Regions from separate parts of the Homo sapiens genome. Here region 2 is linked to region 1. A link means that fine-mapping ties the variant in region 1 to the expression of a gene that starts in the linked region. Tissue or cell type: whole blood. Region 1 holds a variant in brackets; the other region holds the start of a gene. All regions are shown on one strand. Distances are between the middles of the regions.

Region 1 (5,380 bases):
GCTTGATTCCAAAAAGAATCTGTAATGGTTAATAGCAACAACAGAGACATTAATTCAGAGAAACCTAGAACTGATAAAATAAATAAAAAGAGATCATAAACAGTTTGGGAAAAGAGACAATGAGCAGGGAGTAAGGAGACTGATTATACATTAGTCAAGGAAAAATGTTGCCGTTAGGCGTAATGTTTAGCTCAAAGTCTCTGGGCTGCCATGGCGTAGAAGTAAGCAAGATTTTCTGTTAAAAAGAGTGTTATGTTACTTTATCATATTTTATTTTTCCTAGGCTTTGATGGTAGAGTAAAGCATACAAGCATATAAAATAAAGACTTTTATTTTATTGTCTGACATTTTATTTATATAAAAATACAAATTATTTTTAATTATACAGAAATAAAATAAATTTTATTTATATACCTACAAAATAGTCATTGTCCTCGATACTGGAGGTAGACAGTGATAAATCCCTTGCTCTACATTTACAGTCTAGGGTGAAGAAAGATATTTAAGCCAGTCTGGGCACAGTGGCTCATGCCTGTAATCCCAGCACTTTGGGAGGCCAAGGTGGGAGGATTGCTTGAGGCAAGGAGACTAGCCTGGGCAACATAGTGAGACTCCACTTTTATAAAAAATAAAAATAGCTGAGCATAGTGGCATGTACCTGTGGTCCTAGCTGCTCAGGAGGCTGAGGGAGGCAGATCACTTGAACCCAGCAGGCAGAGGCTACAGTAAGCCATGATTGTACCACTGCACACCAGTCTGGGTGACAGATTGAGACCCTGTCTCCAAGAAGAAACCAAAAAGATATTTAAATCACATTGCAATGCAGTATGAGAAGTTATATAAGAAAAGCATGTGGTCTTACAGGAATAAATAACTGCAATACGTAACCTAGGAGCTACAGAGACTAGGGAAAGTGGCAGTATAAGCAAGTCTTTCTGGAAGAAGTGACAAGCTGGAATCTGAAAATAAGTAAGAGTTAGCTAAGAGAAGGAGGAGGGGAAGATTGCTGTAGGCTAAAAACAGCATCTGCAAAAGACCCAGAGGCATACATGGCATATTTGAGTGAGTTCAGGCTGGAGCATAGCTTTCAGGAAGGAAAGACAAGCGCTGAGGCTAGAGAGATGGACAGAAGTCAAATCACAGAGTGTCATATTTGCCTGGTATTGGATCTTGTATTTCATCATGGGCATTGAAGGGTTAAAGTGAAGCCACTGAAGGGTGGTAATTAGAGGATGACATATTTGCATTTTTTAAGTGTCGATCCAACCGCTCTGTGAGGGATGCATAAGAAAGTAAAGCTAGAGGCAGATAGGCCAGATAGAAACATTTTAGGGAAGAAATGGTGAAGAGAGAGAAAGACATAGAAATAGCATCAACAGTTTTTAGTGATTAAGGGGATGTGGAGGGTAAAAAGTCAAAGAAATCAAAGATAACTGCCAGGTTTCTGGCTTAAACACCTGGGTTGGGGGTGAGTTAACCTACTTAACCAGGAAAGAGTAAGTAAGAGTTAGCTAAGAGAAGGAGGAGGGGAAGATGTTACTCTTTCCTGGTAAGTACATTGGGGAACAGGGAGCAAATTGCAGAAAAGTTGCTTGATCAATTTTTTACATAAGAGTTTTTGGTGCCAGTCCATGGACATGTTTTATGGGCAGTGGATAGATGGATCTGGCCCAGTTTACTTTCCTGAGAAGGAACATCCAGGGAAGTAGAGTCTGTGGTTCCCAGGAAGCAAAGGGAAAGAAGATTTTAGGAAAAGAGGAAGGGGGTCAGCAAGTGTCAGGTGCTACTGAAACAGCAAGTTAGGTAAGTCCTGAAAAAATCACGAGGCTCAACAAAAAGAACATTATTGTTGATGTTGATAGAAGCAGTTCTACTGAAGAGATAGAAAAGGGCAGATGAGAGGCCCTGAGTGAGAGGTAGGGAGCATCTTCTACATGTGCATCTCTCATATATAAGCACATTTATGAAAATAGATGTGAATTCTAAATGGATGTGTGTGGAAATTGTGTATCCTGTAGTCACTATCTATTTGTATTTCTTTAAAGCTAGAACTGGATGGTGAGCGAGTAGCACTGCCCAGCTTGGAAGGTATTATAGTTCTGAACATCGGATACTGGGGCGGTGGCTGCAGACTATGGGAAGGGATGGGGGACGAGACTTACCCTCTAGCCAGGTATGTACATTTGTGGTCTGTTTTTTTATGTCACTATTTTATTTAAAGCAATCTCTTGTTTATAGACTTTAACATTTTTCCTCAAATTTTCTTTTTTGTGTATCTCATTAGTTATAAATATTTTTTAAGTTGATGGTCCAACTGTGTTAAAAAGTAATTGCTCTAGCATAACTGATTTTTTATTGCATCATATAATCCATATTTTCTTTTTCCAATTTTAGGCATGACGATGGTCTGCTGGAAGTCGTTGGAGTATATGGGTCTTTCCACTGTGCTCAGATTCAAGTAAAACTGGCTAATCCTTTTCGAATAGGACAGGCACATACAGTGAGGGTAGGTGAAATATAGCTGTAACAGGCTAATTTGTCCCAATCCAATTCTAAGCTGTTGATATGTAAAATATACATGCTATACTTTTCTTTAAACAGTGGTTTATGGCTCATGCAGCTGGTCACTGTACACTAGCGGCTAGAGTGGGATGAGGAAGAAACAGAAACATGGCTCAAGATCCATGAGATAAAACGTTCACTTGAAAAAAGAATTCCTTAATCAATGAATAAAAACATATTCAGATTAATATTTTCTAAAAATGAAATGCATAAGGGTTAAGGGATTGTGGATGGTATTATTAAGGAAGACCTTTCTAAATTTGGGGGGACTGACTTTTAAACATTATTTGTTCCCTAATATCAGCTGATTTTGAAGTGCTCCATGATGCCAATGCAGGTGGATGGGGAGCCTTGGGCCCAAGGGCCCTGCACTGTCACCATAACTCACAAGACACATGCAATGATGTTATATTTCTCTGGAGAACAAACAGATGATGACATCTCTAGTACTTCGGATCAAGAAGATATAAAGGCGACTGAATAGATGGATGAGGGAGTGAAAACTTTGCATAGAATCCTCACGCAAGTAGATACATGTTCATCCAAAAGTATTAATAGAAATTCTCTATCAGCTATTCAGTCTTAATTTCACTAGTAGTATAATGGGTATACATTTTTGTAAATAGCATCCCCAAACCAGCCAGCCTTCAGTTATTTACAAATGTTTGTTCTTTTTTCAGCAAAATACTTCAAATGAATAGTATTAACTTAC[A/G]AAAAGTCACAAAAACTTACATGAGAGTGAAAATTTGTTATGACTGTTTTGAGAGTGGGACTCACTCTGAAGTATGTGCTGTCTCATGTCTTATTTTTGAACCATGCATATGATGGACACACAATGGATGGACACATTATATCTCCAACAAGGTGTGGGTGGAAAGATCAAATTAACCTGCTTTTTTGAAAGGAAATGATTACTGTCAAACCAGCATGGTTAATTGTGAGCATCCTCCTGCAGCATGCCCCTTAAGATTTTCTACAACCCAAACCAAGTGTATGTATTGATTTCTAGGAACCCCCAAAAGGAGAATAGTAAAAAAAGATCATACTTAAAATTTGTATTACAATTTTTATTTTAGGAACTTATTCAGACACGTAAATGTTGTTTAATTCTGTAGGTAACCATTTGAGCTGCAATTCAGGATCTTTTTTATAACACCAGTGTAGCCAAAAGAGAAACAGATAAGTGAATTGGTAAGAAATAAGATTCAGAGCACTTGGGATTGTAAGTTATAGGTTCTGAGCTGAACTGTTTATCAGCCGCTCTTTTTATTAAAAGACAGTGTCAACACTTCAAAAAACGTGCTTAAAGGAGACAACGGTGAGATTAATTGCTTAGAAAAAGCTCAAGGCTGACTGATAAGTTTTAAAAATTTGGTGGTCTTGTAGTATTTTGAAATACAGTAGTCTTTTAACAGAATTTCCCCTTAGGGAGGTAAGTGGACAGAAATCTTTGCTAAAATGTTTATATCATATTTATTTTAAAATGAGAGAGATATATTTTTAAATTATTTATTATTTACCTTGTGGTATGGTACCTGTGTTTAGTGTTTACGTTCTGTAGCTTTATTTAATAAGTTAAATTGATCACATAAATTCTGCTAGTCACAATCAGATAGAAATTTAGTCTATTAATTAAAATTCTAATTTAATTCTCCTGACAGAAATCTAGATATTCTTATTCTTCACAAATATTCCTCATTGTATTGAAAAATGAAGGAGGGCATGAAAAGCACTAGGGAACTACTTTTGGATAACTGAAAGCTTTGTTTCATTGTTTTATTTGCCCCTCAATTGCCACAAACTTACTGAAGGGCTAGTTTCATGGTTCCCATTAGAGGGTGCTTGTTCGCTGCTGTTGACCAGCCCAAGGGTCGTGACCCACAGGTCGGCTGACCCAGAGGGCATCCAGCCTGGTGTTTTTCTGACACATGGCCCAGGCTTTGTGGTCTTTCATGACATTAATCTCTGAAAGATCAGAATGTATCCCCCAAAATACCATTAGCTATCTTTGAGGGTCTATTATGAATCTGTCATCCATGAATTGCCATAAACCTAAGTTTGCCTCACCTCAGGCCCAGACCATGTTTTCAAAGAGCAACTTAGTAATGTATACAGTAGTCAGTACATTTTATGAAATACTCTATTTTGCTAAATTAACCTCTTGCAGATCTCCTCAGGTGATCTTAAATTCTAGTCTTGAGAAACTTTGTGAGCAGATCTGTTTTCAGCTTCTTTATATACCTTTCATGGTAAGTAACCATGGCAGTGAGGATGGCAGAGTTTTGTTTTTTTTTTTTTTAATGGGCCAATCATGTTCTGAGTATTATGAAGTTTATCCTTTCATTCATGATCAAAATTGTTAAAGACATCACATTTTATAAATACACTGTTAAATCCACTTTGCTGTAGGTTATAGTTTACCTGTTATATAATTCGTAGTGCTAATTGTAGTAGAAGCAAATCAATTTAGGATGTTGGAACGAAAATAATCACAATAACTAATACAGCTTTTTAATTGTGAAAACTACAATTAAAAATTATAATTTTAATACCAACCATAATATTACACTGTATTTAGAACAGGCTTATGTAAAATGCCCTCATTTATCTAAATAAGTTGATTTTTTGGTTATTGTAATCTAGTAAGGTTTTTGCATCACTACTGGTCTGTCATGAAGTTTTTCTGCTGGCTTATTCACTTATTTAGACTTCATTTAGGGAAGCTATTTCAGAATACCATCTCATAAAATGTATCATTATCTTGTTTTTGCAAAATTCACTTACTTTTTGGGCACATTTACCCAGCATTTCAAATAAG
Region 2 (5,380 bases), 29 kb before region 1:
AAGTATGAATGGAGGTCACTCACCCTAATAGTTAAACAGACTGGATTTACATAAATGTGGGGCAATCTTGGTAGGGGTGGTCAGCAAGGCCTCTGTCGGGAGGGAGCACCTGGGCAACGAAGACATAGGGAAGAACTTTGTAGGAAAAGGGGGTAGAACTGACAATAGCCCTGAAGGGGGCATGAGTCTGGTGGGCGTGAGGACCATGCAGAGGCCAGAGTGGCCTGAACTCAGTGAACGATGGCCAGAGTGGTAAATGAGTGAAGGGTACCAGGGGTCTGAGAATGGAGGGGTTTTCCCCACAGTAAGAGTTTCATTTCAATATAAAAGTTCAGAGGCAGCCTGCAGGGAACATAGTAAAGCAGGAAGACCAGGTGGGAGGCTGTGACAGTCATTCAAGGGTGAGAATGGTGACAGCTGGACCAGGGGAGTAGTGGAGGGGGGGATGGAGAGATGGGCTCGAGTCCAGGACCTGTGCTGCTGCCAGAGACCGAGAGACTCACTGAGGCCTGCGGGTGCCAGAGAAAAGGGGAGTCAGGATGAGGACAAGGAGTCCACTGTGAGCATCTCCCTGAGGGGTGGTGTCCTTTGCTGGAACAGAGAGGGATGGCAAAGGACGGGCATCTGGATGATAAATTGGAATAAATGTTTGGGAGGAGACTTGGGAACAGGACCTTTTGACACTAGAGTAGAAATACCAAGTGCTCAGATGGACATAGGTGGAGAACTTGGAGGAGCAATCACAGCATCAGCAAGGAACGTGGAGGATCATTGGGGCGTGAAGTTACTATTACACAGAAGTCCAAGTCCTGGGCAGATTCCAAGGGGTGAATGAAATGAGTCTGCTAGTGACCAGAACCCTCCTCAGGTCTCCCAGTAGCCACAATACCACAAAAAGCCTCAAGAGTGACCTCCCCAAGTCTGTTCCCATTAGGGGACTTGAGTTGTGCAGAATCCGTATAAGACAGCCTCCACCAAACACGTGTCTATGCAGGTCCACGTGCCATGTACATACGTACGACTGATGAAGATCCCCTCCTTGACCAAGCTCTAGCCAGGCTTCCCTGAGCCCCCTTTTCAACTAGGCCTCCACCTTGGCCTATGAAATCTGCAGACTTCAGCAAAAAGGATCGGGTCCATCCTTCCCCCTATATCAAAACGCTTAAACACACAGTTTCTTTTTCTTTCTTTTTTTTTGAGACGGAGTTTCGCTCTGTCGCCCCGGCTGGAATACATTGGTGCGATCTCAGCTCACTGCAACCTCCGCCTCCTGGGTTAAGCAATTCTCTGCCTCAAGCCTCCCAAGTAGCTGGGACTACAGGCACTCACCACGATGCCCAGCTAATTTTTTGTATTTTTAGTAGAGACGGGGTTTCACCATCTTGACCAGGCTGATCTTGAATTCCTGACCCCGTGATGCACCTGCCTCGGCCTCCCAAAGTGTTGGGGTTACAGGCGTGAGCCACAGCGCCCGGCCTAAACACATAGTTTTTAACTGCTCAAAGCTGCATCCATAGGATGACCCCAGACCCCCTAAAGTATCTTCCTGGGAAAGCTGCCAAAAGAACTCACTGTTGGCTATTGCCAACACCTTACAAGCAGCCCCTGATGTCCCTTTCTTAAAGAGTTAACAACAACAACAAAAAACTAAACAATTGTGAATCCTTCCTCTGTCTCTCTGGGATGTAATGTCTCCTACACATCAGGAGTATCCTTCTCAAGAACCTGAAAGCCATTCCTCCAACATGCAATCACCAGGAAGCAAAGGGCCTATCTCCCAGTTACTGTGGGAGGATAGGACCCTGACTCCCATAACAGCCATCTAACAGGCACTGTCGCCTAACCTTACTTACACTGACCCACCCTTCACAAGTTTCACTTTCCTGACTACTGAGTTCCTGCTCATCCCCTTCACATTCCCTCCTCCTCCCTCTTAAACACCTAGTCACTTCTGCACAAAGTTCAGTTCCGTTCACGAGGTACCTTCTTCCCTATTACAATAGTATATTATTAAAATCTGCTTTACCACTTTTACTAGTGTCTAGCTTTATCTTCTACAGTTAATACAAATATACGCACATACACATGCATATATATGCACACATAATAATATATACATACACACATACACGTATATATACATCTATATGTGTATTCTTAATGAATGTTATGTCTTCTCTAATCGTTTGGAAGATATTATCAAGTATTTCTTTGCAGTTTTCCTATGATCTCTGCGTTTCTTTTCTGTTCCTTTGGTCCCTTGCTTCGGTGTGTGTTTTCTTTCCATCTTTTATGCTAGAGGAAGTCCGCAAGCAACAAGTGGTCCTCGGCTCCCACTCCTATGTATGTATGTAGTAGGAAGGAAGCCGCTGAGTGCAGCTGTGCGCGCCGGGGCGGTGCCTGTGCCTCTCTGGATTCCGTGTTTCTTCGGGGGTGCTGAGCAGCGGTGCTTCCGCGTCCGCGTTCTCCGGGTAGCTGATGTGCTGCAGGCTGCAGCCCGCGTGGTCGCGGCTCAGGTCCGTGTTGGGCTGGTAGGACTCCAGCGGGGAGCGAGCATTCCTCCGGAACCTGGGGCTGGACGACAGCAGCAGGAGGCGTGCTCCCATCTCCGGTAGTCCCCGGCTCCCGCTGCTCCCCTTTCTCCCCGGCCTCGGGCGCTGGCGGGCGCGGGCGAGGGGGTAGCGCAGGGGAGGCCCGCCCGCCACGGCAGGGGGCGGAAACCGCGGCCGGGCTCGGGGTCAGCGGCGACGAGCGGGCGGCTGCCCCGCTCGCCCTCGGCCTCCGCGCCCGCCCGCCGCTCCGCAGCGGAGGAGCCCTCAGGTTTGCGTTACTGCGGCCGCCACACCTACCTCAGCCCGCCGCGGCCAGGTCGGGCGGTGCCGCGCAGGCCGCCTCCCCCCCTCGCTTCCCAGTCGGCTTACGCATCCCCGGCGGCGGCGGCGCCGGCATCGGCTAGAGGTTCGGCTCAAGTCGGGGGCACTCGTGTCTGCGCCGAGCGGCGGGCGTGAGCGCGGCCCCTGGGCCCCGCGCGGCGCGGTGCTGCGAGGAGGATCCTCGTGGCCTTGCCCCGCCGGCGGCTTTCCAGAATTTTCTACGATTACGAAGTTTTGGCATTCAACCCTCCATCCTCTCAAACGCCCCACTGTTACTCCGCCCCCTTCCCCTAGGCCCCGCCCCCAGCCGCAGTGCCCTGCCTCTTCCATCCGTCTCCAGCCTCCTCCACGGCCCCGCCCCCTCAGGCCGGTCCGTCTCCCCTCCCACCTCACACCTCCGCCCCGCCCGTCAGCCCTGGCTCCGCCCAGCCACGGGGCTCGCCGCCACAGGCCCCGCCTCCAGCTCGCGGCCCCGCGCGCCGGATCGGCGTGCGTGCGGCTGGAGCCTTAAGCGTTTCCCCCGCCCGGCTTCATCCCTGCTGGCGGCCCAGCGTCGTTCTCCTCCTGCGCGAGGCGGCCAAGGCCTGCTGGCCCGGAGCCGCGCCTCCACCCGCGCGAGGTAGGGCTTCGAGGACCGGCGCGGCGCAGGTCTCCGGAGGCCTCCCGAGAGGGGCTAGGGTCGCCGGGCCGCGCGTGGGAGCGGGTGGGGCCCGGGAGGAGACGGCGCCCCGGAGGGGAGTGCGAGGCCTGGGCCGACGGTTACGGGCGCCGACCGGCGTTGCCTGGCCTGAACGCCCGGCCTTTCGGTGGAGGGCAGCTTGCCCCTGTATGTTGCGCCCTTCCGTGGGTCAGACCGGCGGCAAGGTGAGGCGGCGGCGGCAGCAGCAGCCGCCTTGGGCTCCTGGACGCGCTCCCGAGGTGGGGCGGGTTGGGGAGTGGGGATTGGAGCGTGATGGCTGGACGTCGCCTTCTCGGCGCGGCAGGTCCCGGGAGACGGGGGGACGAGGCGCAGTCCCGCCCTCGGGAGAGCGGAGCCACCTTCACTGAGGGCGCCCGGTTTGGCCCCGGAAAGGCAGGAAGGGGGCGGGGAAGGGATGGCGAGCTCGGGGTGCACCGCCTGTTTCTTTTCTGGTTAGGTATCGTCCTTGGAGAAGATGGAAGCGGAGAGGCGGCCGGCGCCGGGCTCGCCCTCCGAGGGCCTGTTTGCGGACGGGCACCTGATCTTGTGGACGCTGTGCTCGGTCCTGCTGCCGGTGTTCATCACCTTCTGGTGTAGCCTCCAGCGGTCGCGCCGGCAGCTGCACCGCAGGGACATCTTCCGCAAGAGCAAGCACGGGTGGCGCGACACGGACCTGTTCAGCCAGCCCACCTACTGCTGCGTGTGCGCGCAGCACATTCTGCAGGGCGCCTTCTGCGACTGCTGCGGGCTCCGCGTGGACGAGGGCTGCCTCAGGAAGGCCGACAAGCGCTTCCAGTGCAAGGAGATTATGCTCAAGAATGACACCAAGGTCCTGGACGCCATGCCCCACCACTGGATCCGGGGCAACGTGCCCCTGTGCAGTTACTGTATGGTTTGCAAGCAGCAGTGTGGCTGTCAACCCAAGCTTTGCGATTACAGGTATGGTCTTCGTGGACACTCACTGTCCCAGAATGCGCCGTGGGAATCAGGATTTCATAGAGTGGTGTAGAGGCCTGCTTTAATCTCTGCTGATGACCTAAACTCATTTTGAGGAAACAAGCTAATAAATAAACATCCCTGAGTTTGTGCAAGCGTGGCAGCTTTGCAGTAGTCATTTGCTGAGACGATGCATCCAGCCTCCACTCCTCAGCCAGCCTGCCCTTTTGGGTAATAAAACTTGGCTCCTAACGTTAATACAGAGGTTTCTAAGTGGTGCCTGCTTCATGGCCACTGTATATTTTAGCTTTTGTTCCTATCGATTATCTCCTTATTTTAAATAAGGAAAAATGAAATATGGACAAATTAACTTTTCCCTTCAGCCGCAAAACTGATGGGTCACAGGTTTTGTACTATGAATGTGCAGTGAAAACAAGTGTCATTCCAAGGCAGCACTTTTATGTCTTTTGCTAATATAGCTGTTGGTACCATAGCGAAATATACTCAAAAAGAACACTGAAAGGAATATTCCTTTTGACGCTTGGTCTTTCAGGACATGTAGAATCTTAGATAAGTGACCTTGATTAAGCCAAGAATATTTTAATGTCTTTTATATACACACTGGACAACACATTTTTGTCCTTAAATATTGTTTGAAAATAGGTGAAGATGTCCTTTGCTGATGTTGGAAATTGGTAAAGGAGAATGCTGCTTTGCAAATGATCTATTCTAACTCAGTTCACAGTTGAGAAAATTAAAGCCCGTTAGGTCCACTCTGGTAAAATAGGACTGGCCTCCAGGATTTCCAGCTCTGGACTAACACTTAGCCTCCTTTGAGCCTTAAGTCTGGACATCTTCATTGTAATGGGTTTTATTTCTGACAAGTAGAAAG

The links.
Region 2: it holds the start of C17orf67, and the variant in region 1 is fine-mapped to the expression of C17orf67 in whole blood (TOPMed, PIP above 0.99).

Annotation. Positions count from the first base shown.
Region 1 is chr17:56,859,746-56,865,125 of GRCh38, forward strand. DGKE (diacylglycerol kinase epsilon) reads left to right here. Exons shown (of 12, transcript NM_003647.3): 10 at 2,046-2,173; 11 at 2,395-2,506; 12 at 2,867-5,380. The coding sequence ends at 3,046. All of the region lies in intron 1 of LOC124904037 (a long non-coding RNA gene), which reads right to left. Among named protein-coding and RNA genes, the nearest start is that of DGKE, 28 kb to the left of the region's middle. The variant A/G (reference allele first, on the strand shown) is at 3,275.
Region 2 is chr17:56,830,769-56,836,148 of GRCh38, forward strand. C17orf67 (chromosome 17 open reading frame 67) reads right to left here and starts at 3,152. Exons shown (of 8, transcript NM_001085430.4): 1 at 2,850-3,152; 2 at 2,130-2,574. DGKE (diacylglycerol kinase epsilon) reads left to right here and starts at 3,383. Exons shown (of 12, transcript NM_003647.3): 1 at 3,383-3,492; 2 at 4,010-4,491. The coding sequence starts at 4,028. RefSeq lists silencers at 2,380-2,674, 2,648-3,717 and enhancers at 3,042-3,639, 4,108-4,507, 4,239-4,836.